2 linked regions of the Homo sapiens genome follow. The main gene of each other region encodes a partner of the protein of the gene in region 2 in a complex. Each region holds a gene or a part of one and is shown on either strand. Other genes may lie near its edges.

Region 1 (4,054 bases), on a different chromosome or scaffold from region 2:
AGCCCGCTCCAGCCCCGACCCTGGGTAAACACGGCACAGAGACAAACACACCATCAGTGTTTATTGGTCAGCTGTCCCAAACGGGCCAGCCCTGGGGCTTTGGGGCTGGGCCTCCGTGAGGAGAGGTCAGTCGGTCAGCGGCCCGGGGTGGCTGCCCTGAGCCCCAGGGCTGGTCCTGGGGTCTGTCAGTCCTTCCCCAGGCTTTCCAGGTCCAGAAGGCTTTGTGGGGTCTGGGGCTGTGTCAGGGTAAGGAAAGCTGCCTTGGTGGAGGAAGAGAAGTCAGAGAGGTCACACATGTGGCCTTAGAACCTGCTAAGTCCAACGTCAGCATGTGACAGGAGGGGAAGTGAGGCAAGACGGCAGAACCCAGGGGAAAAGGTGGCAGGGAGTCTGAGAGTGAGGTTGGGAGGACCAGCATCTTTTAGGCCCTGAGCAAGAAGGAGGTGACCGGAGTCTTCCAGGTATCCCTCCCTCCTAGCTTCTGGAAGTGGGAGTCGGGGAGGGGGCTCCAGTCAGTCAGGTGTAAGCTCCATGCCATGGGGACTCTGCAGGACAGGCAGGCTTGAGGAGCCACTGTGCCTGGACAGGTTCTGCAGGCTCCCCCACTTGGTCCCTGTGCTGGAGGGGAAGCAGAGAAGGGGCTGGCAGCCTCATCCCTGCGGGACCTTCACTGAGCCTTCTTGGTCACTCTCTTGGTCTTCAGCATCACATAGGAGATGAACAGTCCTGGGATACACAGACCAGAAAGGCCACATAAGATCTAAGCTCAGGGCTGCTGGGAGGCCAGGGCATGACACAGCAGAGCCACCCACACACAGGGCTGTGAACCTACCCAACCATCCTCCAGGGAACCTGCTTATCTCCCTAGTCATTCGTCAAGGCATATGTCTACTCACATTCACTCAACAAACACCAACTGAGTGCCTGCCTCAAGCAAGATGCTGCATTTAGTGTTTCAGATTCCAAGGGGAACAAGATCCACCCATCTATCGATCACCCGGTCAACCACTTGTCTGTCCACCTACATACCTACCCACCTCCTCCTACACCTCACCCACCCACCCATCCATCCACCCATCATCCAGGCACCCGGCTGTTGACTGACTCATCCAAATGACTTTCTGAGCACAGCCTCAGTGCCACAGCCTGTTCTAGATGTGCAGTAATGATGGAGACACAGTCCCCATCCCTAGGAAGCCATGAGAGAGAGAGGTGCAGGAATTAGAAGCCAGGGTGACAAGAGGGTGACTGAGGTGTGAGCAGAGTGATGATGGGGTTGGGGCAGGAAAGAGGTAGACAGGTCATTGGAGTCCAAAAAGCCTGGGGCACCAGGAAACCCAGAGGTTACTGACTGGCAGCCTCGAAGGATGAACAGGAAAACCCCACGGGTGAGTTCGGGGCAAGCAGCTTCCAGCACCGCCAAAGTGTGGAAGCATGTTCAGAGGTGGGGTCTTCCCGAAACCCTGCCCAGGGTCAAGGGGAGGAGGTGATGACTTACCCACAAACAGGAGCAGCAGGAGGCCTGCAGCCAGTGGGATGGCGACAGCATAGGCTCGGGGCAGGAAATACTTGTGGATGACATGCTGACTGTCGATGAATGGCTGGCATCGAGGGAAGAGCTCTGGTGTGTCTTGCTTGCCTTGCCGAGCCCCCAAGCCCAAACGTCCCACCTCCTCCATCTAAGGGGCTGACCCATTCAGAGGACTGGGACTGCATTTGCTTTTCTTTAAGATTACGGCATTTGGGTGTCGTGGTTTGTTTCTTTCCTTAATTTCTTATTGGTATTTACCGGGCACTTGCTTTGGTGCCTGCTATAGGTTGGTGGTGGGGACAAGAGAACAGGGCACAAGAGACCTGCCCTAAGGCACCTCACAGCCTAGCAAATGGTACTTGAGGAATCCTCGACTGACTCCCAACCTGGGCCTCCAGGGCTTCTTCACTAATATTTTTTCTCTAAAGGATACCAAGTTCTGCACTTCCAGACACACTGCACTTCTTAAGCAATAACCAACAAGTTTTCCCACAAGAAAAAAATATCCTAAAGGCCTTCACAAATATCACTGGCGTTTGCCATGCCTAAGAGTCAGCAGGCTAACCCAGAAGGAACAGAACTCCCCCAAAAGTCAAAGCAAGCCGGAAACAGAGTTATAAGTGTAGCGGCTAAGGATGCAATCTTGGGCCAGATCCTTCTCCCCTAGCCTCAGCTATCTCATCTATAAAATGCGGTACCACTGGCATCTTCCTCATAGAGTTGTTCTGGAGAGTTCAAGAGATGAGGCAGGCAATGAAGCCAGCGCCGTGCCTAGAGCCTATATAGTAGTTGCTCTGGCGGTGCCAGGGCTCGGGGAAGGTGAGCAGCGGACGGGGAGAATGACATACCAAGAGAATCACCCAGGCGGTGTAGTAGGTGAAGATGATCAGGCTAACGGCGACGAGGCCGAGTCCCACCACCTGGTCTGTCCCCGTGGCCTGGAGAAAAGGGAGGTCTCAGCTGACGAAGTGACCCTCTATTTCGGCGCACTAATGGAAGCGGGGCGTCGCGGCCCGATCACGGTCTAAGCTTCCCATTCAACAGATGGTAGAGGGCTGACTAGGGATCAGTTTCTAGGCTGGGAGAGAATGCTAGGCCTCCGCGTTGTCGTCCGTACAATAGTGGGGGCGGGAGAGCAATCCCCGTTCCAAGTGCCCATGCCCCAGCTCCTGAGCAGACCCGGGACCCCACCCCCAGACGCCCCTATCTCCGGCACACGGTGCCAATCTCACCATTTCCCCGCGCGCTCAGCCACCCGAGCCGCAAGCCACATCCGGTTCCGGGTCCACGCTCTTCCGGCTTTGGACTGCGGAGCACGCCGGGAGTCGTAGTCCCCAGGCCTGCTCGGGCCCACCTCGTCGGAGACGAGCAGGAACCGCCTCCTCTTCTTTGCATATCGGCGAAGTGTAGTTCTCAAGAGCATTGTGGGGCCGGTTGCTGCCCGAATCTCTCTAGGGAATGGGACCGAGTTGGGGACCCAGACTCCCTGGCCTTCATGGCCACAGTCCTGTCGCCGCCCCACCAAAAGCCAATCTCTAAGTATCCCAGAGTCCCGGGGCCAGAGTGGGATGGGAGTGCGGGATCGGAAGTTCCATTTTTCAGATGGGAAAAGTGAGGCTCAGAGAAAGGTAGATCCCATTCCGAGTCAGTGGTGAAGCCGACACGGAAACCGGGTGCCCTACTTAGTCTGTAGGTGGGAGAGGTGCAGAGAACGTTCACTTTCCAGCCTAGGGTGGGCGGGGGAGGGTCTGTCCCTAGCCCGCATGGATGGGGAGGATTTGGTGGAGAGGAGGCGCCCTCCTCACCATCGCCCGGCCTCCCGGGCCACCCTTCGGATGTCCCCTCCCTTCCTTCACCGACTGTCTCTCGCAGCAGCCCAGACACGTTTCGGACCGGGACCCACGCACAGGCCCCTCCCCGGTCTTGGAAGGCCCTTCCTCTGAGAACAAAGAGATGTTGGGCCAGATCATCTTCCACGCTTCTTCAGCTCCGAGATAGGAACGCGGTCCCCCACCACTCACAGGCCGGCTGCTCCTCACCCATCCGGTCTCACTGGGACGCCACGTTCCTCAGGGAAGCCAGTCGGGAACGTTTTTTTTGTTTGTTTGTTTGTTTTTGAGACGGAGTTCTATGTTATCCAGGCTGGTGTCGAACTCCTGGGCTCAAGCGATCCTCCCAACTCGGCCTCCAAAAGTTTACAGGCGTGAGCCACGGTGCCCAGCCTCCTGTGCCTTTTAATTCACTGATGCAATTGTTGATCCAGCCCTGTCAGCCCCGAGGGTAGGGTCTGAGGTTGCTGCTGTATCCCTGGCACTCAGTGGAGGCTTGGCCCAAAGAAAGAGGTTTTTTTGTTTTTTTTTTTTTTTCCCAAGACGGGAGTCTCACTCTGTCACCCAGGCTGGAGTGCAGTGGCATGATCTCAGCTCACTGCAACCTCTGCCTCCTGGGTTCAAGCGATTCTTCTGCCTCAGCCTACCGAGTAGCTGGGATTACAGGCACGTGTCAACACGCCCAGCTAATTTT
Region 2 (4,728 bases):
AGGGTTGGGCCCACTCAGCGCTTGCAGAAGTCAAGCGCTGTTTCTCCTTAAGCAGAAACTTATCTTTCCTACAGCTCACCCCTTCCCTTGAGCCCAAAGTATCAACTGACTTCAACTGAAAAATTAATTCCTGCTACTGCCCTAGTCGGAAATAGTGTGAAGGTGACATAGGAACTTTACAGTAGTTTCCCTTGAGGGTATGTCCCGATAACTGCCCTATTCTCTAGTCCGTTAGTAACTCTAATAACGGAAAGTTATGACTGTGAAAGATTGCTTTGTGAGGGAAGGAAGGTGAGGCAACCAGAGACTTTCATTATCTCTTAAATATCTATCCAGTAGAAGTGTTTCCTTTTTGGTATCCTATAAACTACATTAACCTTAGAAAATCTTCTGAGCATTAGTGAACAAAGAACATCAAAAAATAAACTGTTTTTTTTAAAAAAAACAGGATGGCCCAAAAAACAAACAAAAAATTAGGATGAACATATAAACATTTGTCAGTTTATTTTTACATTGGAGTGGAAGAGAAATTTGAAAATATAAACATATTTTTGGATTCTGTACTTCCAGCTCCAGGAACTCAAAGTGTGAAATGATAATGCCCAGTGATGCAAAAAAAAAGTTCAGGTTGATATTCAGCAGAACGGAGGGAAAAAATGGATGACTAATGAGAATCTTTGAGTCTTCGGACATGGAAAAACTAGATGAACTAAAAATAAAAATAGACAACATTAATGGAGCATTAATTTGTGCCAGGCACTTTTCTAAATGTTCTTCGAATGCACAATCACATTTATGCCCTACCTACAAGGTAGGTACAATTATTAGTCTTATACAGATAAGGAAAATGAGCAGTTAAGTCATTTGCCAAAGTCATCCAGCTACTAATTGTGGACAGGGAACCAAGCTGTCAGGCCCCAGAGCCCAAGTTCCCATCTACTACACTGTAAGAAAGAGATCTAACATGGTCACTTTCTTGGAGAGTGGGAAGCAAACCTGGGATACAAATTCACTGAATGGATCACCCACTCATTGAATGGATCTTTAACAGGCAGATCACATCTGCCTGTTACACAGCTATTTAGGCCCCTTGCGGCCTCCAAGCTCATTTATAGAAGTAAATTAGCTGTGCTTTATTACGCAAATACTTCACAATGACTGGGTCTCAGGCAGGAAGAATTTATATATTTTGGAGGGTCAGAGGCCTAGGCCCTTCCTTCCAGGTTCTCACTTTTTTTAATGAGAGAGAAAAAAGCCAAACAAGGTTACAGAAACTAATGGTATAGTAAAGATGTACATGAAACAAATGAGCGCTTTCAATACATCCATGACAATACATTCGGTACAATACATAACAGTGTGTTTGAAACTTCACTTGGAGGTAACCACGTAGGTCCAAGCCTAACTCCCTACAACTCTGAGGCCTGGCCACTGGCTTCCTAGCATCCTTGGACAGGCCCCGGTGAAAACCCAGACACCTTGACTTAAACACTGGTTTAGTTTGTAGTCTGGTAAGGCGGCGGGGCACTCACCAGAGGCCTCTGCCCTGGGGCTGTCCTCCGGACTATAGATGACGCCCGTGGGAAAAGCAGTCGGAGCAGAAGCACCCTCGGAACCAAAGCGCCCGCCCCGCCTACTCCTCGGCAGCGTTTCCTGGAGGACCAGGGGGCGGGGCCTGCCCGGCTGGCCTGGACGAACGGGAAGCCGGGAGCTCGGCCACGGGTGGCGAGGCTGCGGTGAGGCCTGGTCTCCGGCTGCCAGACCATGCTGAGTGGAGCACGCTGCAGGCTCGCCTCAGCGCTGCGGGGAACGCGCGCGCCGCCGTCCGCGGTCGCCCGTAGGTGCCTGCACGCGTCGGGGTCGCGGCCTTTGGCCGACCGGGGCAAGAAGACTGAGGAGCCGCCCCGCGACTTCGATCCGGCGCTGCTGGAGTTCCTGGTGTGCCCGCTCTCCAAGAAGCCGCTCAGGTAACTCGCTGGCCTTGGCCCTTCCTTTGCAGCCTCCCGGTGGGCGGAAAGGGAGCGGTGGACCGCGGCCTCTTGCAGCCACTGGGGCCTTGTAGGTCGGTCAGGTACTCTCCGCTGCCACATTCTGGACTCTGTCCTCGCCGGGCGCACAGCGGGCAGGACGGGGGAGACCGGAGGCCAGGGGAGCTGCGTCCCACATCTCCCAGAACGCAACGCCAGCCTGCGGGAATGGCTCGAAGCGTTTTAGGGTTCGCGACCGGCTGCGCATTGCAATCACCCGGGGACCGTTTTAAAAATGCCGATTCCCCGACAGCCCCCAAGACGGGCAGACTTGGAATGCTCGCGGGATGGGACCTGAACATTTGTATTTTCTTTTCCTTTTTTTTTTTCCTTTTAAGAGACAGGGTGCCCCCTACGTTGCCCAGACTGGCCTAGAACTCCCGCCTCAGCCTCCTCAGGAGTCGAGAGACAGGCGCCGCCCCCACGCCCAGCTTATCTGTGTTCTTAAACGGTCCCTAAATGATTTCTAATGTACCACCAGGTTTATGAACCACTGCGATTCAGGACAAGTCCGAAGCCTTCCGGTTTTTAAGCCAAGATAATGAAAAGTATTGTTGTACCCTCCAGATTCTTGTGAAAGTGTCTTGTACAACTGGTGCCTGACAATCTTAAGCAATTCAGCTGTGTTTGCTGCCCAGTGGCTCTTAGTTGTGGCCTAGCAGGTTTCGTAGAAGCCTCTTTAACTAGTTTTTGGGAAGACAGCTCTACAGTTTCCAAGCTACCAAAATTGAATATTGACAACACTAACGCTAGTATTACAAATCGCATAAACACCAAAATGTTATCAGTGGTTATCTTTGAATGGTAGATTGCTAGCAATTTTTCGTATTTCTTTTTCCCGTAATAAACATATTATTCAATTTTCTCGAACCTTGAAATTATCATTTGATTTACGTTTATAACTAGCTCACTGCAGACTTAGTGCTTTCGAAAGTTTCTTCATTTCTGCCCTCTCACCTTTTCCAGTGATTTCCTTCTAATGGATTAGTTAAGTTTCTCTACTTAGCATTTATTCTAAAATGAAGAAGTTGATTTTTCTCTAGTGTTTATTCCAGTAGTAAATTAACAGGGATGGTTTGGGGGTTGACCAAAGTAATGAAGGAATATTTGGATAAGAGAGGGGGATCTTTTCTGACTAGTATGAAAAAAAATTAAGGAATAACTTGTGAATAAGGTGAAAAAGAGAATATGAGAGAAACTACTAAAATGGGAATAATTATAGATTGTAAGAGAATTTTTCTAAGATAAAAGGTTGAATTGGCTATTGTTGCTTTTAGAATTAAAGAAGACTATTCTGGGATTAACTCCGTACCAAAAATTGGATAAATGGTGGTATTTGTTGAAAATCAGGCTCTTCAAGCATTTTATTTTCCCACAACTCATTTTGTTCTTTTTTTTTCCACCTCAGATATGAAGCATCAACAAACGAATTGATTAATGAAGAGTTGGGAATAGCTTATCCAATCATTGATGGGATCCCTAATATGATACCACAGGCAGCTAGGATGACACGTCAAAGTAAGAAGCAAGAAGAAGTGGAGCAGCGCTAGTTCATAATTTAAAAAAATTAAAAAAACGCAACAGCCAACTTTTCTTAATACCATATACCTTTTAAAACACAGTGGCAGGTAATAAGTGGAAGAGAAGAATGTTTCTGTCTCTTCCTACGTTGACTGTTCTTATTCCACTGGTTTCTTTAGCAGGACTGTTCTACTCAGCCTCTGTGGAAGAAAACTTCCCACAGGGCTGCACTAGCACAGCCAGCCTTTGCTTTTACAGCCTGCTCTTGCCTATTACCATACCAGTGTATGTATTCTTCCACCTTTGGACTTGGATGGGTATTAAACTCTTCAGGCATAATTGATGCAACTAGAGTCAATATGCTGTATATATTAATGATAGCTCTTGGGCATCGATCTCTGAAAGCTCAAATGGATGGAATTTAGTTTGCGGGAAAGAGGCTTTGCTTTGCGCATATCAGGCTTAGGACTGTGGGAGGCTTAAGTTGCAGATGCTTCTTTTATTGTACTCTTGTTCTGCCCTTGTTTTTTGAAGGCTCTGACTTATAACTGCTGTATCAGAAGAAACATTTTGACAGTGTCTTGGTTGGAGATGAACATCCCTAATTGACATGTGATGACTATTTCTTATTCCATTCATCTAAGAGTCATTGAAATTTTGTTTTGCTTGTTTGTTTAGCTTCAAGGTCTTTGGTAAAGTCACATGTTAAGGATGACTGAAATAATTCCAAAGGAGTGATGTTGGAATAGTCCCTCTAAGGGAGAGAAATGCATTTGAACGAATGTGATATAAAACCACATAATCAAATAGAAACTTCATGTACTTACAAAAACTGAGTTTGTAAAATTACCTTCATTTCTTTGACATTAAATGCTTATATTAGCAATAAACATGTTGACACTTTCCTATAAAAAATAAACCAGTTTGCAGTAGTCGTTTGTTTGTTTGGTCACAGAAGTGTTAATGATACTAAGGGAAGTTGTAAAACTGCACTAAATGTAGTTGTGTTTAGAGAGGTACTTAATACCCAAAACAGAATCATTTCCTGGGAAAGTGAGGGGTGGGAAGACTTGCAAGTAGTGGATTGTACCCTGTTGAGCTTAGAGCCATATTTGAGCCACATTTCAGTTTATTTTCCCAGGATGCCGAATAACACCACTAAGGGCATGAGCATTGACAC

What was found.
Region 1: PIGY (region 2) and DPM2 share a complex: the UniProt entries of both Homo sapiens proteins name them as parts of the glycosylphosphatidylinositol-N-acetylglucosaminyltransferase (GPI-GnT) complex.

What each region holds. Positions count from the first base shown.
Region 1 is NC_000009.12:127,935,055-127,939,108, forward strand, and holds DPM2 (dolichol phosphate-mannose biosynthesis regulatory protein), read right to left. Parts: upstream 2,801-4,054; 5' UTR 2,767-2,800; coding exon 2,764-2,766; intron 2,470-2,763; coding exon 2,380-2,469; intron 2,257-2,379; coding exon of another isoform or gene 2,161-2,256; exon of another isoform or gene 1,763-2,160; intron 1,725-1,762; exon of another isoform or gene 1,602-1,724; coding exon 1,499-1,601; intron 727-1,498; coding exon 668-726; 3' UTR 45-667; downstream 1-44. UniProt on the Homo sapiens protein: Regulates the biosynthesis of dolichol phosphate-mannose. Regulatory subunit of the dolichol-phosphate mannose (DPM) synthase complex; essential for the ER localization and stable expression of DPM1.
Region 2 is NC_000004.12:88,520,737-88,525,464, reverse strand, and holds PIGY (phosphatidylinositol N-acetylglucosaminyltransferase subunit Y), read left to right. Parts: upstream 1-1,688; 5' UTR 1,689-1,764; coding exon of another isoform or gene 1,765-1,967; intron 1,968-3,435; coding exon of another isoform or gene 3,436-3,577; 5' UTR 3,578-3,675; coding exon 3,676-3,891; 3' UTR 3,892-4,467; downstream 4,468-4,728. Other genes in the region: PYURF (protein preY, mitochondrial precursor), read left to right, coding at 1,765-1,967, 3,436-3,577. UniProt on the Homo sapiens protein: Part of the glycosylphosphatidylinositol-N-acetylglucosaminyltransferase (GPI-GnT) complex that catalyzes the transfer of N-acetylglucosamine from UDP-N-acetylglucosamine to phosphatidylinositol and participates in the first step of GPI biosynthesis.